Homo sapiens: one gene and its partners. Changing the gene in region 1 together with any one later gene gives a genetic interaction. Each region holds a gene or a part of one and is shown in the gene's direction. Other genes may lie near its edges. The genes, in order: RICTOR, SEC24A, SEC24B, SEC23IP, RAB5C and FUT8.

The links.
Region 2: changes in RICTOR (region 1) and SEC24A together harm fitness less than expected from each alone (positive genetic interaction), as found in Homo sapiens cells (one large-scale study listed by BioGRID).
Region 3: changes in RICTOR (region 1) and SEC24B together harm fitness less than expected from each alone (positive genetic interaction), as found in Homo sapiens cells (one large-scale study listed by BioGRID).
Region 4: changes in RICTOR (region 1) and SEC23IP together harm fitness more than expected from each alone (negative genetic interaction), as found in Homo sapiens cells (one large-scale study listed by BioGRID).
Region 5: changes in RICTOR (region 1) and RAB5C together harm fitness less than expected from each alone (positive genetic interaction), as found in Homo sapiens cells (one large-scale study listed by BioGRID).
Region 6: changes in RICTOR (region 1) and FUT8 together harm fitness less than expected from each alone (positive genetic interaction), as found in Homo sapiens cells (one large-scale study listed by BioGRID).

Annotation. Positions count from the first base shown.
Region 1 is NC_000005.10:38,945,400-38,948,899, reverse strand, and holds part of RICTOR (rapamycin-insensitive companion of mTOR), read left to right. Parts: intron 1-1,458; coding exon 1,459-1,636; intron 1,637-2,347; coding exon 2,348-2,432; intron 2,433-3,175; coding exon 3,176-3,409; exon of another isoform or gene 3,410-3,500. UniProt on the Homo sapiens protein: Component of the mechanistic target of rapamycin complex 2 (mTORC2), which transduces signals from growth factors to pathways involved in proliferation, cytoskeletal organization, lipogenesis and anabolic output.
Region 2 is NC_000005.10:134,725,097-134,728,409, forward strand, and holds the end of SEC24A (protein transport protein Sec24A), read left to right. Parts: 3' UTR 1-2,813; downstream 2,814-3,313. UniProt on the Homo sapiens protein: Component of the coat protein complex II (COPII) which promotes the formation of transport vesicles from the endoplasmic reticulum (ER).
Region 3 is NC_000004.12:109,440,315-109,443,814, forward strand, and holds part of SEC24B (protein transport protein Sec24B), read left to right. Parts: intron 1-3,500. UniProt on the Homo sapiens protein: Component of the coat protein complex II (COPII) which promotes the formation of transport vesicles from the endoplasmic reticulum (ER).
Region 4 is NC_000010.11:119,891,246-119,895,529, forward strand, and holds the start of SEC23IP (SEC23-interacting protein), read left to right. Parts: upstream 1-1,484; 5' UTR 1,485-1,537; coding exon 1,538-1,700; intron 1,701-4,284. UniProt on the Homo sapiens protein: Plays a role in the organization of endoplasmic reticulum exit sites. Specifically binds to phosphatidylinositol 3-phosphate (PI(3)P), phosphatidylinositol 4-phosphate (PI(4)P) and phosphatidylinositol 5-phosphate (PI(5)P).
Region 5 is NC_000017.11:42,127,735-42,130,989, reverse strand, and holds part of RAB5C (ras-related protein Rab-5C), read left to right. Parts: intron 1-399; coding exon of another isoform or gene 400-487; coding exon 488-653; intron 654-2,189; coding exon 2,190-2,341; intron 2,342-2,606; coding exon 2,607-2,729; intron 2,730-3,255. UniProt on the Homo sapiens protein: The small GTPases Rab are key regulators of intracellular membrane trafficking, from the formation of transport vesicles to their fusion with membranes.
Region 6 is NC_000014.9:65,741,176-65,744,621, forward strand, and holds the end of FUT8 (alpha-(1,6)-fucosyltransferase), read left to right. Parts: intron 1-917; coding exon 918-1,235; 3' UTR 1,236-2,946; downstream 2,947-3,446. UniProt on the Homo sapiens protein: Catalyzes the addition of fucose in alpha 1-6 linkage to the first GlcNAc residue, next to the peptide chains in N-glycans.

The DNA of each region.
Region 1 (3,500 bases):
GTAATCCATCTAGCCCTTACATTATTCTTAATAACATTAAGCAGTTTTGTTTCAATAATGCTTAACACATTTAATAGAGGGTTTCTTGGTAGCAGACAATGAATTGTGTACCCTTACAGGATTTAAGAAATTATGCAGCAATGTCTCATCTATCTGGAACTCACTAGCTTTGGCAACCTTGTCCAGGACAAAGCCAGGGAAAGTTCTCAACAGCTCACTGTTACAAATCTATGCAGTAAAGTTCATGAATTTTGAACATTCCTAAGCCTCAGTTACCTCATCTGGTGGAGATTGCACTAGATCAGTGGTTGTAAACTTTTGTATTGTTGTTTTTTAAGCAGAGAAATTATTTTTTCACATAAAGATTTCTGTGGAAACCCAATAGGTAGAATAGATAGAAAGGGACCTATACTGGTTGAAATAGGAATTGGGAAGGGGAATAATCCAATAATTGTTTTCCTCCCACTCCAGTAATCCTTGAAGAGTTTTATGGGAACCAAAGAAATGTAACAGATTACAGTTTGAAAGAGTGTTTTTTGGGTGGAAATTAGGAGCATGGTTTTTGCTATGTTAATAGCTACTATTTAGAAAGCATTTCTTTTGTGTGTTTTACAAAATAATTATTTGATTTAATATTAGGCTGCATTCGTACATTTTAAAGACTTGGTTTTCCAAACAAAAATATCTTCATATAAATGTATATAAATGTGGAACCTTGCATAGTGCCTTGTATATATACAGCAGATACCAAGTAAATATTTTAGCATGTCTGTTGCATAAGTAAGAATCTGTATGAGAAACATGTATCTTATGGAAATATCAGTGTATCATATTTGTTATGGAATCTCTAGTAGTAAGGAGTACATTGTGGAAATATCAGTACATTGTGGAAATATCAGTGCTTTTTACAAGGATATCTCGTCATAAATGACCATTTTGCTCTTGTGTCTGTCTTGTGTGCTACATAAATCTTATGTTGATAATGAAGGCATTAAGGTAATTATCACACAAATAATGATATGTAATTGATCTCATTTTTTATAAATATAATATTAAATAGAGTTGATACACATATCCTTAGTTACATAAATGCCAAATCTAGTAGTCTCAAGTGATTATGAAGATAGTCCTTGGACCATGCTCTGACTACTGAGGTCAGTTTCTTTTTTTACTTCTAGATGTTGAAAGTTATTCTAATTGCCCACCTTTTCACCTTTACCTGAGAGACCATAACAGTTGTTTTTGGTAACAGTCAACATTACTGGTGACCTTTTACATAGCGGTCTATAACAGCTAATATTTTAAAGTGTTTATGTGTTGCCAGTAAACAAGATGACACTGCTTAATACATGACTAGCTACTTGTCTTTTATGAAGGTAGGAATATATGTTATTTCTTCATATGATTAAAATTACAGATCAAGAAACTAATGCAAGTGGTTTCTTTATGGTTTTATAGGTTCATGAAAGCCTTAAGTTATGCATCATTAGATAAAGAAGATTTATTGAGTCCTATTAATCAAAATACCCTGCAACGATCTTCCTCAGTGCGGTCCATGGTGTCCAGTGCCACATATGGGGGTTCAGATGATTACATTGGTCTTGCTCTCCCGGTGGATATAAATGATATATTCCAGGTATTATCATACATTTTATTGTTTTCCTATGAGTTGGTTTCCTATTTTTTCATATGCTGTAACTGCTTACTAGAAATCATAATTTAGGGTGGGCACCAGTTTGGGGCAGCATGATTTTTAAGACCGTTTTGTTTAAAGAAACTTTAAGATTAAAATTATTTTGCCCTTTTCAACTACTCTGTACTCTTTTATTTAGTCCTTAGAACATTATCCTTCCCTCTCTTCCCATATTAAATCAGTATCTCATTTGATTTCTTTATCCATATATTCTCTGTAGAAATTTATGAAATTTCTAACTTGTTTTTTAGTCACATTTAACTTATACCTCATTTTTAAATCCTCATTCCTATTTATCCCATAAAAGGTAGCCAGCCATATGTGGTACCCAGTAATATAAGGTGACCCTAATCCCAGGAGATACCCACAGATCTCTAGATGGTATATAGTACTAAAGAACACATTTTCTTAGAAGTTGAAAGACATTTTAGATAAACGCTAAAATAATTAATGTCCATTTAGTCACTAATAATATAATAAGGACTTTTTGGGTTATTTTGTTAAGTTTTGGTAGTTGAACCTTCAGTAAACTTGATTATAGGTTCATATGCTATGGTAATTCTATTTTAATTTTATTTTGTTTAATTTTGCTAATTTTCATAAAGTGGGCTTATTTTTATAGCAGGACTTACCATGGTTTATATCTTTTTTTAGGTAAAGGATATTCCCTATTTTCAGACAAAAAACATACCACCACATGATGATCGAGGTGCAAGAGCATTTGCCCATGATGCAGGAGGTAATGCATTGTGCATTGTACTTGTGAGATGCCTCTTTATATTAAAAAGAAAACTCTTAGTTCTTTCTAGTAGGATAACACTAAAAATTTAGGAAGACTCACTTTTGGATCAACTTTAAAATTATACCAAAACAATTGTTAAAGTCAGCTTAAAATTAAACCACATTTTTGTGTATGTGTGAGGGACTTAACAGTGTTTTCAGTGAAGTACTCAACCTTTCAAGGAAATAGAAACCAAATTAGTTGTTTCTGTTTTTTAAAAGTAGCACATGAACAATGTATAACACTAATCCTCATAGATCCAGGAAATAGCTGTTTGTTTAGAGTAAGGAGAAAGAAATGTACTTATAAAATACACGGTCTTTGTTTTGAACTGTTATATTTTAATATGTAAATATAAGCCACAGGTTTTATAGCTTTATATTCTTAATGACTTTTTAAACAAATGCCTCTTTATACTTAGAATTATTACATATCTTTAGGCAAATATTGACGATAATTGAAATGATGTATTATATAATCTCAATTTTCCATTTTGTATTTAAAACACTATATATTAAAATAATAAACATCTGCTGGCTTTCCTTATTTTTATAACTTAAAGCAAATTATTCTTTTTTTCTTTCCAGTTAGATTTTGAGTCATAAAATGTGCTTAAGCTTTCTTTAAAATTTCACATAATTTAAGGTACCTTGAAAAGTATTATCTTTATTGGATTATGTTTTATATTTACTTATGCACAGGTCTTCCATCTGGAACTGGAGGTCTTGTAAAAAATTCTTTTCACTTGCTACGACAGCAGATGAGTCTTACGGAAATAATGAATTCAATCCATTCAGATGCCTCTCTGTTTTTAGAAAGTACAGAAGACACTGGACTACAGGAACATACAGATGATAACTGCCTTTATTGTGTCTGTATTGAAATTCTGGGTTTCCAGCCCAGCAACCAACTGAGTGCAATATGTAGTCATTCAGGTAAGTGATCACGTCCCACCTTCAGAAAAACCTAGTGATGACTAAAGTTCTCTGGTTTACTTTTCCAAATTTCTTTTTGGTATTCTAATTC
Region 2 (3,313 bases), about 96 Mb from region 1:
GAATGAAGAAATTTGACTTATTTTTAAGGAATGTCACGATAGTGCAGAATACCTGGAAATGTGTAATACCTTCTTTTTCTATTATGTTTGTGGACTAATGTGATGATTGAGATGTTCTCACTGTGATTTCAACAACCTATAGCAAATAAAAGACCACAGCAGAGAATCAAACATGCAACTCTGAAATACTGTATTTTTCAAATCAGAATATAGCTACGTATGATTGGATACTTTTTTCTTGCCAATTATGTTTGAGTTGTTATGGATTAAAATAAGAATATTGCAGAGGCAAAGTACATTTTGTAAAATAAAGATTTCTGTGTTCTACATGTATATTTCTCATTTTTAATTTTTCTGAATCTTTGGCTGCTACATTTAAAACCTCACAAACCTAAGTGTTGCAGGGAAGTTACAAATTGATTGGTAGTGATGTTTTTAAAATAAAAACAATGGAAAGTAAATATAATGTAGGAAAACTAGAATTCATTCCCCACACGTGTCTTTTTTTTTTCTTTGTTAAGGGAAAGGATCATGTTGACTAAAACTAAACTAATTCTAGTATAGCTTGAGAAAAATATGAAGAAACACATTCAAGCTTTAAAATCTGTCAGTATTCTTTATGCTTGAAGAACAAAGTCACTTTGATTTGAAGTGAGAACTATCATTAGGTGGTTTTCTGATTTCCTGATGAAGAGTTGGACATACTGTCTTAATCTATAGTGAAAAGAATTTGAGCTGTCTTCATAAACACTGGGACTAGCAATGATAATAGGGAGATAAGAAACTTTAATTATCTTGATCCTTTAAGTGGATTTTATTTGGTGCATTTCTGCTCTGGGTATATAATAAAAGTGGGGGTTTTTGGTGAAATGAGTGAAGAAATGAAAGGTTTCTAAAGTGCTATCCAAATACATCAGTAACATTTTTCTAAGGAGTTTAATTGTTAAATTGGAAGTCATTCATAAGAAATATTTATGCTTGAATATGAAAATCTATGAAAGCATAAATGCTGCTGTTTGATTTGGTGGATATTAAGATTATACACATCCAACATATTAAAGTTATGAAAGAAACTTGACTTCTGAAAATCCTTAAGAGACTGCTTTCTTGATTCAGCTAGAGAAATATTATAGTCAAAACTATTGAGTGAATTTTGTTTACAAATAGGTAAATTATACATTTGTATATTTAAAGTGCTGTGACATAGTATCTTTAAGAGTTTGGCTCAGTTTTCACAGATTCATTTTGTCTTAAGAATTTCTTAAATATGTTCATGTATAATACTTGATCAAAATATTTTTGGGTTTTTTGTTTTGTTTTAATGGGTTAGAAAATGTTTACAATCTTGGTCTTATATGATCACCAATGGAATAGTAACTTCCAGGTTTATATCAATATGAGCTGACTTTAACTGAGTTGTTTGGGATAGGGAAGAAGCAGTCCCTCTACAGTATACAACTACTGCTTGCCAGCTGGATCAAAATAATCATGTTTTATGAAAATATCTCCCTTAAGCAGTGTTAAGGTTGGTTTGCAGTGTGTAAGTGGCACATTGAACTGGAAGTTTTCTTGAAAGCTGCTTCATCTATTAAGAAGCAATTTTCAAATTGTAGCGAATTATATTATCCCCTCTTTTAAAGAAACAGTCGTTATATGCTGATGTTTCTTAAAATAACTAAAATGTTCCTCTTAATGTGATTTTAAATGGAGTTATTTGTAGGTCCTTTCTTAGTAGTAAAGAATCTTCTAGAGGGAAACATTTGTGCTTTTAGGGATAATCTTCCTTGTGCCTCACTACATCCCTAAGTGGGTATGACTCTTGTTATTACCACATGCTTTTTTAGTATATTTCACAAATTTACTTTTAAATATTATTTTAGATACGGTGTAACATGTGCAATTCAGAATAATTTTATAACAGGTCATGAAAAACATAACTTTAGTTAGGATTCACAATATTTGTTCTCCACATAATGAGAGAATGAATGAGCCTTTGGAGATACTGATATAAGGCAATTATTTTTTGCAATGTTGAATGTGTTTTTTAGTTTGATTCTTTTTTTTTCCCCCAATAGGGCACTACCTGCCATATCATCTTGTATTACTTTTTGATGTAAAGCGACTAATATTTACACTATGCCATATTTTTTTTAATTATAGTTGTAAATTATGAAAGATCCTTGAATTTTCTACAGATCTACAACTACTAATGTAACAGACAAGGGCAATCTTGGTATTTAAATCTGAGCATGGCAGTTCTACCATAAAAAGTACTCTATTTTTCTAATTTCTAGGATTTTTAAAATAACATTTCTGTAAGTCTGACATACTAATAGTCACTCAAGCAGTACCATTTATTTTAGTTTGCATATATTTTCACTGTTTTTAATTTAATGTATTGAGTCTAATAGACTGTTTTGCAATAATTAGAATAAAGATTTATTTCTTCTAATCAAAGATGCATAACAGCTATTATCTAGGGGACCACCAAATGTGATTTCAAAATTTTGTTAACTATTACAAATGTAATCCTTATATAGAAATTTTAATTTTGTAAAGTAGTGTATAATATTGTAATATTAAATTCTTGTTCTTAAATTCAAATATGTATTGATCTTCAATGTGCTGTGTTAAATCTTGCTTCTCTGAAAAGTTGGAGACAAGATTTGTCTTCCTTTTTACAGTTTGTAATTTTCACTGTTTTATTCCTGTTAAAAAAAAAAAAAAGTCATTTGTAACCCATGCAGACCATTGTTTGATCTATGCTAACTTATCAACTTGGCTATTCAATAAAGTTAATTGAAAAGAGCTTATATATAGTGACTAGTTATTTAAAGTGATATGAGCCTGGTATGGTGGCCCACACCTGTAATCCCAGCAGTTTGGGAGGCCCAGGTGTAAGGATCACTTGAGGCCTGGAGTTGAAGACCTGTCTGGGCCAGGTGGCGAAAACTTGTCTCTACAAAATAGTTTTTAAAAGTAGGCTGGGCGTGGTGGCTCACGCCTGTAATCCTAGCACTTTGGGAGGCCAAGGCAGGTGGATCACCTGAGGTCAGGAGTTCGAGACCAGCCTGGCCAATATGGTGAAACCCCATTTCTACTAAAAGTACAAAAACTTAGCCAGGCATGGTGGCGCATGCCTGTAATCCCAGCTACTTGGGAGGCTGAGGCAGGAGAATCGCTTGAACCCTGGCCGAGGTTGCAGTGATCCCAGATCGTGCCATTGCACTCCAGCTTGGGGAACAAGAGCAAAACTCCATCTAAAAAAAAAAAAAAAAGTCCAGGTGTGGTGGCTCATGCCTGTAATCCCAAA
Region 3 (3,500 bases), on another chromosome or scaffold:
CTAGTATTTCATGTTACTTTATCTTTCCAATTCATCTGTAATTCCTGAAGTATTTTATGCTAAAGGTATTAGAATAATTTTCTTTCCTAGAAATGAGGCATCTTCATTGTCAGCATTGTTAGAAAAGATCATGTTATATATATTCAGCCCTGGAGAAGCTACTATTTTCAATAGGCTGAGCATACTCAGAATTGTCCAGAAGGAGTGGACTAGTGAAAAGGTTGTAGGCTTTGATATAGCCCAAATTTTTGTGGAGAAACTTACTTAACATGCTTCAGAGTATAATAATACCTTTCTTACAGAGTTGTTTATAGAACTACATTTAATAAGGTACTATTTTTAAAGTACTTAGCCCTAGAAGGAGCTTAGCAATTAGAGTCCCTCCCTTCCATTTTCTTCAGAACACCGTTTTATAAATTCTTCAGGTGGCAGAAACCATATGAGTTTTCTTCATCATATGCCCAGTAGTAGCAGCTTGTAATAGGCACTCAGTTAAGTGAACTTGGTTTCCTATTCGTTATTGCTTTTGAAGACTGGCCACTGACAGGAGTCTGTGTGCCAGCTCCCTCTCCCCTTTTTTGTATTTAAGGCTCAATCACTATTTTAGTCTTCTCTTTATTTTCTTCTGCTTTCCAGTCCTCCATCCCTTATGTCCGCAAATGCATTCTTGGAAGGTTTCTGGTAATAGGCCATCTATTTTAGCTAGTTTGCTTATGGAAAGGTAAGTTTAATGGGTTTTAAGTTTTCTAAAATTGTGTGCCAGAAGTCATTTGTAACAGGAACTGAGGAAAAGCAGGATGAAGTAGCGAGAGGGAGTGGTAAAATCATGTCTTGCCTAGCCAGTGGCCAAGTCTTAACTTGTTTTCCTTAGGATTTCTGATTAATGGATATTGTGAAATGAGGTATAAGCCTGGCTTTGGAACCAGCAATGCCTGGCTTCTTTGCTCCTTACCAACGATTTGAATTCGTATGAATTAGTGGGCTTTCATGGCCCTGTTTATTTGTATATAAAAGATGATAGTGATACTTCACAGAATTGTTTGAGAAGCATATCAGATTATATGTAGAAAAGCAAGGTATCTGGCATGTAGTAGATTCTGAACCAATATTGATTTTCTTTTCTTTCTGTATTTTGAGACAGGGCCTCACTTTGTCACCCAGGCTGGAGTGCAGTGATATGATCACAGCTCACTGCAGTCTTGACCTCCCCGGGTTAAGGTGATTCTCCCACTTCAGCCTCCTGAGTAGCTAGGACTACAGGGGCATGCCACTATGCCCAGCTAATTTTTGTATTTTTTGTAGAGATGGGGTTTCACCATGTTGCCCAGGCTCAAGTGATTCTCCTACCTTGGCCTCCCAGAGTGCTGGGATTACAGCGTGAGCCACCATGTGTGGCCTTGGTTGTCTTTTGGCCCCTCACTCATAGCACTCATTGTCGTGGTATCCAAGAAGGATAATTGATGTTGTAGCAGGAATAATCTATACTTAATGCAGTGAGATTTAATCCAGTTGTTTACATAGCCTGTGTCTGTAGGCTCTGTCCGCCAGCGGTGACTGGAACAGTTACCTTCATCCTCAGGTATATTTGCAGTTTATGGAATGTAGGAGAGAAAGAATACAAGAAAACATTTCTCTCAGAGCTTGGGAAGAAGCTCTATAACTGTTATCCTTGCATTATGATAACCTAGGATATCCAGATGTAATCTGAGACTCCTCATTTTTGAAATCACCAAGGTTTGTAATTGCCTATTGCCTTAGGGGTGTGTGGGTGTGCAAGCATGCACATTTTTTATGCCCATTAAAAATCTGTATTTTGGCATTGTTAGTGATACCTTATTGGCAGGGAGAGTATATTAAAATATTCAGTAATCAGTACTGTGTATACTGACCACTAAATGGATACCATCCTTCATACCAGAGCAGGATCCTATAAGCTTTCAGCTGTGCCAGGCATTACTCCTTCAGCTGCGGATTATGAGAAGGTTTGGGCTAGCATGGTGGGGTAAAGCAGGGGAATAGGACCATGGCTATGACTCATTACCAACTGATTCAGAGCTATTTTAACATTTTAACAAAGATAATTGTTAAAATGAATACCTGGGTGCATACTGACTGAATATTGGCCTATTTCTTTGTAATTGAGTGATGAATGAATTCAGTGATTACATTCTTCGATCTGATTCTACCTCAAAGTTAGTATGAATTTATCTTAGTAGGATAAAGGAACTTGTACTTTGCTGACCTTGATGTTTGTGTTCAGATAATGGAAACTGAAATCTGACTTTGATCTGACTGAAAAAAAAAGTTGGAATTCAATTCAGGAAAATATTAATGAAACAACTATTTTTAATATTAAAATGTGTCTCAGGGAGGGGGAATGATCATGCTATTATGGAAATCTCAGGAGTAGTCAAATTAGAGATGTGGTTTTTGTTTTCTCTCTTCATTTTTTTCTTTTTAAACAATAATTGTAGTATGGTGGAAATCATGACTGTTACAATCTTATTCAGGTAACTTGCTTTATTTTTGTGTTTTCCTGTATGTTTATATTACTCATTTATCAATTTTGCACATTTTTACTAGGTTTGGTAACCTTTTTATGTCAAATGTTTTTTTCCCTATAAAATGGCTGTATTGTAATATTAGAATAATCCAATGTTGATGCTTTATTTTCCTTGAAGTTTCTCCAACTTTATATTTATGGTAATATCTCTTAAGTGAGCTCTCAGTACCAGTTAGTCCTGTGGTATTTCCCTGCTCCATTCCCAGTGTCACATGCTCCCCTTTTCCCTCAAATTCTCAGTATCCTGTCTCTCTGCCTCCCTTTCCAATGGTGACCTTACTTATTTTACTAAGAAATTGAAAGCAATCTGACAATCTGAAGATAAAGTATTAATCTTCTGCCACCAAATCTGTCAGTCTTCCTGCATATTATTCTTGTGTTATCTGAGACAAATTCAGATTATTTGGGTACAGAATTCTGTTCCCTCTCTTTTAAGAACTTTGTCCCTCCGATTATCTCATTTACCATCAATTTTGATCTTAAACACCTGAACCTTATTTTATGCAATGCATATGTAATCCTAACAGTTATATATAACTTTTATTTTAGAGACGAGATCTCACTGTGTTGCCTGGGATGGTCTCAAACTCCTAGGCTCAAGTGACCCTCCAACCTCTGCCTCCCAGAGTGCTGGGATTACAGGCATGAACCACCATGCCTGGCCTATAAATTTAATTTACAATTCCTAGCAAATATTTATGTAGCTCCTCTTTACATAACATTTTGTGCTAGATACTCTGGGCATACAAATGTGAATGTTCTCTGCACTCCAGGAGTTCTGTACCCCTCAGTAAAAGAGGAGAGGACTGTCAGCACTGAACATGTGTTTCCTTCATAAGGCCTGTGAGAAGGGTGCCCAGAGTTTTGAAGAGGAAACAATTCTTTTTGGTTAAAGTAATAGGGAATCTTAAGGGAGGAAGTTAGAACTTCAGCTATA
Region 4 (4,284 bases), on another chromosome or scaffold:
GACAGTAAGCACATGAAATCGTTATTGAATTAATAAACTTAGGTTCTATATATGTGTAAACAGCTGAGCAGAGTTTCATTATTTTGAGCGTTCTTTTGGTATCTCCTCTCCCAACCTCCAAGAAGCTGAAATATGGCTTAAGTTATATTTTCCTTCAAAATCTCTAACTATGAAAGATGACAATTATGTCCAAGTTATCCACAGTACCTCCTGGATTGAAGTAAGTCAGCTTACTGTGGATATAGAAAGCTATCTAAAATGTCAGATCTCTAATTTCAATGCCCTGGTTTCTTTTTTTTTCTTTTTTTTTTTTTTAAGGAGACAGGGTCTCGCTGCACAGTGAGTGGCAAGATCAGGGTTAATTTGGCCTCAAGCAATATTCCCGCCTCAGCCTCCTGAGTAGCTGGCAATATAGGTGCTATGCCACCAAGCCCGGCTAATTTTTGTATTTTTAGTAGAGACGGGGTTTCACCATGTTGGCCAGGTTGGTCTCAACCTTCTGGGCTCAAGCTATCCTCCCGCTCTGCCTCACAAAGTGCTGGGATTGCAGGCCTGCGCCATGGCGTCTGGTTTGATTTCTCTTTTAAATATTTTTTTTGGCCAGGCGTGGTGGTTCATGCCTATAATCCCAGCAGTTTGGGAGGCCAAGGCGGGCAGATCACGAGGTCAGGAGATTGAGACCATCCTGGCCAACCCGGTGAAACCTCGTCTTTACTAAAAATACAAAAAATTAGCCAGGCGTGGTGGCGGACGCCTGTAGTCCCAGCTACTCGGAGGCTGAGGCAGGAGAATCGCTTGAACCCGGGAGGCGGAGATTGCAATGAGCCCAGACTGCACCGCTGCACTCCAGCCTGGGCGACACAGCAGACTTGTCTCAAAACAAAAAACAAAACCAACCAAAAAAACAAAAAACAAATGCAAAACAAAAAACAACAAAAATAAAACGAAATATTTTTTTCTCCCTATGGATTAAACACTTAAAAAATGTTTTACCACTTCTATTTCTGGGTCAACCACAATGTTCGGTTCCATCCAGAAAGACAAGTGGGTTTTGGAGAGGGTGTTTGGTTCCGCCTAGCATGCGAATTCCCATTCCCGCACAACGCTCTTCCTCCCTTCCTCCTTCCGGTAGCGTCCAGCAGGATTCCGCTGTTCCTCCAAAATCTTTGTCAGGAGAGCCATCCTGACGGTACCTTTAGGAAGCCCATAGATACCCGCCACAACCTGTGACTTTCAGGGTCAATTGCGTCTCAATTCGCACGTCTATCCAGAACCTGCGGGGACCACGTCCCCATCCTCCCGCCCGGCCTCCGCCTCCGAGGGTGTCACGTGCTAGACGCGGGCGTGAAGACAGTGTCGCCATGTTGATATCTGGCGTCGCCGTGTAGGGGAAGGGAGAGGGCGGCTGACTAGCTACCCGTAATTTCGGCTCCTGTGCGCAAGTGCGGAAGTGCGCTGGCCAGGAGCGTGATCGGTTTCCGGTCAGTGGTGTGGTACCGGGTACCCGGAGACGTGTATCGGACGGTGGGCCGCAGCCATGGCCGAGAGAAAACCTAACGGTGGCAGCGGCGGCGCCTCCACTTCCTCATCGGGCACTAACTTACTTTTCTCCTCCTCGGCCACGGAGTTCAGCTTCAATGTGCCCTTCATCCCAGTCACCCAGGCCTCCGCTTCTCCGGCCTCCCTGCTCTTACCGGGAGGTAATAAGGGGAGGGCGGCCCCGTGTGTGGTGGGAGGCGGGCGGGGGACGTGCAATGACAAAGGTCAGACGGGAGTTTTTCCTTCTGCCTCGAGCTACCCTCTGGATAGCTTGCCAGGATCATTACTGGCCAGGTTTGAGTGGGTCGGGGGCTTTGGGATCTTGGAGGTGGCAGGTGATGAGACTTGCTCTTCACGGAAACCCCCTGTTCCGAGTTGTCCAGAGTGCTGGACATTCATTCGTACCCTGGCATTCCGCAAATCTTTGCTGAATACCCGTTGTTGGTACGCCAGGTGCTGGCAGGAAATGCAAATAAATTAAACAGTGGCCCTCTCCTAGGGTACAGTAGTCTGTCTCCCACTAGGAGACTCCTAGGATACGGTAAGATACCTCCTAGGATGGACTGTGCCCCTCTCCTAGGATACGGTACACTGTCTCCTACTAGGAGATTGTTGTGATACAGTACAATATCTTCTAGGTTACAGTAAGATATCTTATAAGATGGACTGTGCCCCTCTTCTAGAAGCCTGTAATATTTGTGAAGTAGACATATACAATGCATTCCTTATCTTTTTTTTTTTTTTTTTTTTTTTGAGACGGAGTCTTGCTCTGTCGCCCAGGCTGGAATGCAGTGGCGCGATCTCGGCTCACTGCAGCCTCCACCTTCCAGGTTCAAGTGATTCTCCTGCCTCAGCCTCCCGAGTAGCTGGGACTACAGGCGTCTGCCACCATGCCTGGCTAATTTTTGTATTTGTAGTAGAGACAGGGTTCCACCATGTTGGCCAGGATGGTCTCAATCTCCTGACCTCAAGTGATCCGCCTGCCCTGGCCTCCCAAAGTGCTGGGATTACAGGTTTAACCCCCCACCCATTCCTCATCTTTCAAGACAATACATCACTTCTTCCAAGAAGCTGTTTCTTGTTCTCTTAGGCCCCCACTCCTATGTGCACTCCTAGCTCTTTTTTCATATTTGTATTATTGTCCAGGGAGATTGCTTTTTGATGATTATGTAGCATTGCCCAGAGCATAGTGTTTAAGAGCACAGACTGTCTGTATTCCAGTCCTTGCCCTGCCAGTAACTTGCTGTGTGACTGTAGGCATTTTACTTTACCTCTCTGTGCTTCAGTTTCTATGTATGTGTAGCCTCACAGAATTGTAATTAGAAATGCTTTAATTTTTGCAAAGCGCTAAGTATAGTGCGTGCCAGACAGTGTGATTTAATGTTTGTGAAATAAACACACCTGCCTCTCCATTTGGACTGCAGTCTTCTTCAGCAGCTATGACCTAATTGCCTTTTTATCTCCAGGATCTTATTTAGGGCCTAGTACATAGATCCTCTTTGGATGCTGAGTTTCCAGTGAATAATTTATTCTTGTTTGAAGGATGAAAGACAGTTTCATGGAGAAGCGAAGACAGGCACACTGGGAACAGCTGTACATGAAGGTTCCCCTGCCCATGTGTTATGTTTCTTCTTGATGCTTGTCACTACCTGACATGTACACATATTTGTTTATTCCACTGCACTAGGATGTAAGACCATGAAAGCAAAAACTTACTTTTATTCACGATTATATTCCCACTGCCTAGAATGGTGTGTGGTATTTAGTAGACCAATTATTCAGTAGATGTTTGTTGAATGAGTGAAAGGATGGGAGTCAAAATGATGTCTCATTTTGACCTGTGGTTGAAAGGTTAGGTGTTGCTGTCTTTGGTGAAGAACCAGCATGGTTGGAGCAGAATGCTGTGGGAGGATGCAGGAATAAATAGGGCTATACTTGGGGTTTTCTAATTATCCTCTGCACCATTAAAGTTGTTTGGTTATGTCCGTCTTCCTTGCTATGTAGTGTTTGGTTTGTGTGTGTCACTGTGAATTCATGCTAAACGTTTTCATTGTTAAGTCTGGTATAGCTACACCTGTCTTTAATGCTTTTGTTTCTTGGAGACAGTCTGTGTGTGTGTGTGTGTGTGTGTGTGTGTGTGTGTGTGTGTGTGAATATTAATAATTTTAGAACTAAAATTCATCTCTAAAAATCTCAGAAACCCATTCAGAGAATTTCCAGAGACAAAAGAAGAACCTGTCTCCCTGGAAGCAACAGTTAATCATATAAGTGGAAGAGAGACACAGGAAGCAATTTCATACATTCAGCAGACATGGAAGGCCTGGCACAGTGGCTCACGCCTGTAATCCCAGCACTTTGTGGGGCTGAGGCGGGTGGATCACCTGAGGTCAGGAGTTCAAGACCAACCTGGCCAACATGGTGAAACCCCATCTCAACTAAAAACACAAAAGTTAGTTGGATGTGGTGGTGGGCGCCTGTAATCCCAGCTACTCGGGAGGCTGAGGCATGAGAATCGCTTGAGGAGGAGGTTGCAGTGAGCTGAGGTCATGTCACTGCACACTCCACCCTGGGCGACAGAGTGAGACTCCATCTCAAAAACAAAAACCAGACATGGATTGAGCAGTTTCTATTTGCCAGGCACTGTTCCAGAACCTGGGAGACACAGAAGAGCAGACAGCCCTGCCCTCAATGACTGCACAGTATGTGTGTATACACACACACCCACCTGTGTAAGCAACTGTGATA
Region 5 (3,255 bases), on another chromosome or scaffold:
GCTTTTGTTTTGTTTTGTTTTGTTTTAATTTTGCCCCAAAAGCCTGTTGACTTAACTGTCACCAGGCTGTCACACATTCATTCATCGCCTGTGTGTGTTTATTTGTAGGTGAATGTACATATTTGGGATCCAGAAGTCAATGTGTTTGCTCAGAACCATGAGCCTGAAGTTGGGAGACCATTCTCCTCTTTACAGCTCAGATGGTGGTAGAGCCGGTAGACATCTAGTATAGCCCAGTGGGGCCTCCTGACCTCTAGTGGGGAGGGCAGGGAGGTGAGGTGAGGGGAAGCAGTCAGCTAGGTCTTCAGTGAGGCCAGAGGGAAAGATCTGTAATTTAAGAAGGACACAGCGGGTGACGGCCTCTGAACTAACTCAGTACTTCTCATTTCTCCCTTACAGTTGGAGGTCCCCCTCCCCACTAAGTGCCTCTTTGCATAGCACCAGTCCCCACCCGCACGCTCTCTGGACCACTACAGCTGGACGGGCAATGGCGGGTCGGGGAGGCGCAGCACGACCCAATGGACCAGCTGCTGGGAACAAGATCTGTCAATTTAAGCTGGTTCTGCTGGGGGAGTCTGCGGTAGGCAAATCCAGCCTCGTCCTCCGCTTTGTCAAGGGACAGTTTCACGAGTACCAGGAGAGCACAATTGGAGGTGAGTGGGCATGAGGGAGTCGGGGAGGGGCCTGAAGGTTGCCAAAGAAATGCTTTGACCTTGAGGAGATGGGAAGCTGCCTGCCTGCATTAGGGACTAAATGCGTCTGTGGTGGCAGCCCCACTTCCTCACCTGGGCCCTGGAATTGAGCCCAGCAACTGGTCTCCATGCCAGAGTCCCCTCAAGCATCGCTAGTAAGCATTTGCTGGGAGTGGAAAGCTAGCTTCCCATCCTGTTTCTGCCCCTTCTTGATCTGTGTGGCCTTGGCTGAGGCCCTTTCACTGCCCTGGCCTCATGGAGGGAGAGCTGACTCTGGATCTTTGAGGCCCCTTCTTACTATAATGGGTGGTCCATGTGCCCTGGCCTTTCCCACTTCCAGAAGAAGGAACAGCCTGGTGAGTCGGAGCTGGGTGATAGGTGGGTGTTTCTGAAGCTGACTTTACCCTTTCTGGAGCTCACAGCCTGTTGTTGATTTTCCAGTGGTCAGCATTTAGGATGTGAGTGAGGGTCTGGCCTCGGCCTCTTGCCTCCGTGGCTAACACACACATCAAGAGGCAGGGGCCAACGCTGGCCTTGGCCTTGAGTCATCCTTTCTCTACTCTCTTGGTAGGAGGTTTCTAGGCAGCTGGAAACAAAATGGGCCATGTCAGCAGTCTCCCTGCTGCCTCCTCAGCATTTGGGTCAGGAGCTGGAGAGGGGAAGTGAGGCAGTGCCCCATGTCCCTCAGTGAGCTGGGGGAGGGCAGACCAGGAAAGCAGCCTTCTACACATGGCTGTCCTGGGTTCTCTGCTGGGTCCAGGGGCAAAGGGGCCTTTTGCTGTCTGTCCCAGCTCTGGACTCCTCCTTTGAAGCATGTGTACAGGCACCCTGCATTCCCCTAAGGAGTCACCTCTTAGTGACTGAAGGTCAGGTCACAGGGTGGCCATACAGGAACAGGTCTGGGTCAGAGCTAGGGGCGGTGGCTAGCTGGAGTGCCTGGAGGTGGTAGGGGTGGTTGGGAAGCCGGCCACCCAGCCTCAGCCTGGTGGTGGAACAGTGTGTACTTCCCCAGCATAGCTAAGTGTGTGAGAATGTCCTTAGGAAACCCAAGGTCAGTGACACCCCTGGGCTGGAGCAAACTGAGGGGTGGAGCGGTCCCTAGCTGCTGGTCTGTTCTCTGAGTGGCGGAGGAGGAGGTCTGAGGGCGCTCACCCTTCTGTGCTTGGAGTAGGCTTCCCCTAGGCTTTCCCTCTCTTGCCCCTGCTGTGTTGCTCTTCAGAGAGTGGTCCTGAGATGGCTCAGTGCATGCAGGAGTCCCTTCTCCTGCCGTTGCCTGGGCTGGGTCTGCAAAGCCTGTGCAGACCCCGTCCCCCAGACACATACATAAAAATCCAAACTCCACCCCCCACTCAGGCCTGCTTTGGCTCCTGGCTTGAGGGTTCTCTGTGCCCATCTCAGTGGTGGGCTTCTGAGTGCCAGAGCCTAGAAGCAACAGTGGGATTGTGTGGGGTGGATTCCAACTCGCTCTTGCCCATGGACGCTCCTTCTCTCTTACAGCGGCCTTCCTCACACAGACTGTCTGCCTGGATGACACAACAGTCAAGTTTGAGATCTGGGACACAGCTGGACAGGAGCGGTATCACAGCCTGGCCCCCATGTACTATCGGGGGGCCCAGGCTGCCATCGTGGTCTATGACATCACCAACACAGTAAAGATTTCCCCTTGCTTCTTCCTTTGCCCTTCATCTTCTCAAAGTCCCAGGGATTGGGTTATCAGAGCCCTGATTTCAGGCCGCTTAACCCTCTGTTCCTGGGTGGGGGGTGGGCAGATTTCCTGTTTGGGGACATTGCATCAGAATCTTTAGGTGGCAATGTCTTAGATAATTTGGCTGTGCCAGCTTGAGAGTCTCTAATGGGTGGCCCTGGGCAGAATGCCTTCTCTGTCCCTTCGACATTCTGTCCCTGTCTCCTCAGGATACATTTGCACGGGCCAAGAACTGGGTGAAGGAGCTACAGAGGCAGGCCAGCCCCAACATCGTCATTGCACTCGCGGGTAACAAGGCAGACCTGGCCAGCAAGAGAGCCGTGGAATTCCAGGTGGGGAGATGACAGACTTGGGGGAAGGAGTGGAGTAAGCAGCTCCCCCCGGCCTCGCCTGGGATGCTCAGGGGCTTTGGGAAGGGCCATGCTAGGAGGCAACAGGGAAGCTTCCATCTGCTGTCCTCTCGTGCCTCAGGCATGGGCCTAACATGGCTCCTGTCTGTAATCCCAGTGCCTTGGGAGGCTGGAGTGGGAGGATCACTTGAGGCCAGGAGTTCGAGACCAGCCTAGGCGACACAGTAAGACTCTGTCTCTGCAAAAGATTTAAAAATTAGCTGGGCTTGGTGGCACGCACCTGTAGTCTCAGCTGCTCAGGAGGCTGAGGCACGAGGATTGTTTGAGCCCAGGAGTTTAAGATTGCAGTGATTGCAACACTGCACTCCAGCCTGAGCAAGAGTGAGGCCCCATCTCTTTAAAAAAAAAAAAAAAACAGCCAGGTGTGGTGGCACACACCTGTAATCCCAATACTCTGCAGGCTGAGGCGGGAGATCACTTGAGCTTAGGAGTTCGAGACCAGCATGGG
Region 6 (3,446 bases), on another chromosome or scaffold:
TCACCTGCTATCCAGTGAGCAGAGAGGGTATTCTTTGGACATAGGGACCTTTTAAGTAGCCTTAAAACTATAGTAATCAGGGTGATGCATTTCCTCAAAGGCTTGCCCAGTTTATGTCATCCAAGCATGCCACTCTCTACACAGCACACTTAAAACTTTTTAGAACAGAAATTGCCGATGTGTTTTAGCTCACTTGCCAGTGCTTGTTGATTGTCAGTAATTACATGAATCTCTCTTGAAAACAGTTCTGGGAGCGGGGAGGGATAGCATTTGGAGATATACCTAATGTTAAATGACGAGTTACTGGGTGCAGCACACCAACATGGCACATGTATACATATGTAACTAACCTGCACGTTGTGCACGTGTACCCTAAAACTTAAAGTATAATTTAAAAAAAAAGAAAACAGTTCTGACACCAAGTTATAAATTAGCAGATGAGAATGTGTGATTGATTAACAGTGTATGAAGGAAAGGGACCATCAGCATTTATTTGTGTTAAGTTTTTTTATCCTAATCCTAAACTTCAAATTCTTTAAGGGCACAAACTATGTCTTACTCATTTTGGTATCATGAGTGCCTAGCTTGGACCACTGTGTATGTAGCTCTTAATAAATGTTTGTTAAAATTAACTAATTCATATTCTTAAATTCTTTTGTACTATATAGAGATAGAGAGATTTTAATTGTAATAATCTTTCGTGAGTTTTTCTTCTTTATTTGAAAAAGGATCCAGACACAGAGATGAAGAATGACTTGTACCATCTTCTGAGAACAAATGGACTGAAAGCTTGTGACTAGAATCCACTACTTTTCAACCTCTTACTCCTAGAGCCCATCCTTTTGGCCAAGGGCTTTTAGATTGCTGTGAAGGAGAGTGTTTATATACTAACAATTTCTTTTAAATTCTTTCCCAAGGTCTGTCGAGTTGCTTATGAAATTATGCAAACACTACATCCTGATGCCTCTGCAAACTTCCATTCTTTAGATGACATCTACTATTTTGGGGGCCAGAATGCCCACAATCAAATTGCCATTTATGCTCACCAACCCCGAACTGCAGATGAAATTCCCATGGAACCTGGAGATATCATTGGTGTGGCTGGAAATCATTGGGATGGCTATTCTAAAGGTGTCAACAGGAAATTGGGAAGGACGGGCCTATATCCCTCCTACAAAGTTCGAGAGAAGATAGAAACGGTCAAGTACCCCACATATCCTGAGGCTGAGAAATAAAGCTCAGATGGAAGAGATAAACGACCAAACTCAGTTCGACCAAACTCAGTTCAAACCATTTCAGCCAAACTGTAGATGAAGAGGGCTCTGATCTAACAAAATAAGGTTATATGAGTAGATACTCTCAGCACCAAGAGCAGCTGGGAACTGACATAGGCTTCAATTGGTGGAATTCCTCTTTAACAAGGGCTGCAATGCCCTCATACCCATGCACAGTACAATAATGTACTCACATATAACATGCAAACAGGTTGTTTTCTACTTTGCCCCTTTCAGTATGTCCCCATAAGACAAACACTGCCATATTGTGTAATTTAAGTGACACAGACATTTTGTGTGAGACTTAAAACATGGTGCCTATATCTGAGAGACCTGTGTGAACTATTGAGAAGATCGGAACAGCTCCTTACTCTGAGGAAGTTGATTCTTATTTGATGGTGGTATTGTGACCACTGAATTCACTCCAGTCAACAGATTCAGAATGAGAATGGACGTTTGGTTTTTTTTTGTTTTTGTTTTTGTTTTTTCCTTTATAAGGTTGTCTGTTTTTTTTTTTTTAAATAATTGCATCAGTTCATTGACCTCATCATTAATAAGTGAAGAATACATCAGAAAATAAAATATTCACTCTCCATTAGAAAATTTTGTAAAACAATGCCATGAACAAATTCTTTAGTACTCAATGTTTCTGGACATTCTCTTTGATAACAAAAAATAAATTTTAAAAAGGAATTTTGTAAAGTTTCTAGAATTTTATATCATTGGATGATATGTTGATCAGCCTTATGTGGAAGAACTGTGATAAAAAGAGGAGCTTTTTAGTTTTTCAGCTTATTTACTTTGTTTTTTTTCCTGTTTCTGATATAGTAACTAATTCTTAACTCAGAGACATTGGTCCATTTTAATACTGAAAACCAATTTTCATTGGTACACATTACAAAATTGCTAAGAACACTGTTTGGGAGCTTTCATTCTCATATTTTGGACATTGTTTTAATTGAGTGAAATAATCATAACTCCTTGCTCCCAGAGAAGCTATCACCTCCATTTCTAAAACCATTTCAGGTTTGTTTGGTAGTCTTTCTTAATGTATTTATTATCGCTTTTTGTGAGTAGGGTCCTGTTTTATCCAGGAACCAATTTCTGCCCTAGCCTATCATGCCCTGCTTTTGAGAGTACCAGGTATCTTTGGGATTGGGAAGCTGGCTGTTTCAGAAGTATATGTCTCATAGTGTGCAGAACTTGGTGACCAAGTGAGAAGCGGGACCAATGGGAGACTCACAATGGACTGAGTCTTGGGATTATCTTTTCCAAATTCTTCCATGTTAGAATCACTTCAGAAAATAAGACTTTGATGCTTTGTCTCTGAGCATCATTTTTCTCCTCATAAAAACACTTCCTTATTGTATGTAGCCTGCCTCCTACAGAGGCCTGGTAGGTGTTACTGCATTCTAAAAGAAAAATGTCATCTCTGTAGGAGCGACTATCAGGCCTAGTGTGAAATATTAGGGATCCTAGGCAGAAGAGCTATTAGTCCTGGCCTTCATATCTTCACCAAATGAAAATACTGTATATAAAATTTCACCACCAAACTTAACTAAATTCTTTTTCTCAAGTCAAGCCTCCCAAAGAAAAAAGAAATTAACTTCCTACAGTGTCAGCAAGCAATTTTCCATTTAGTTTTGGTACAAATAAAAGTCATTTGAAACAATCTCCAACTGAGCGGAGGTAATTTTGATTATGAGTTATTTTGCAACTCGCATCTCACATGTCATTGGAACATCAGTAACTGTGGATCTGATTTGTGCCCTTATAGAAGATCCAAAGGTAAATTAAGTTAGTCTCTTTTCCTTCTAAATTGACCGAGTTCCAGGGGTGAAAGGACCAAAGAACAGAGATACGAAGGAAATAAATTAAGGAGTATTTCCCAAAGGGAGTCTTCAACTGAAGAGTTAATTTTTGACATTTTATCATTTGGTTCTAGAATTTCTCCCTAATTCTTTATATTTCTCTACTGAGATTTTTTTATTCACTACATGCATGTTTTCATTGAACATAACTATGTAGTGAATAAAACTATGAACCTTGAACATAACAGATGAACATAACTATGAACATAACCGAACAAAACATTGAACATAACTATATAGTGAATAAAAAAATTATTTGTTCTCAGTAGAGAACACATAAATAAAAAAATTATGTGTTCTC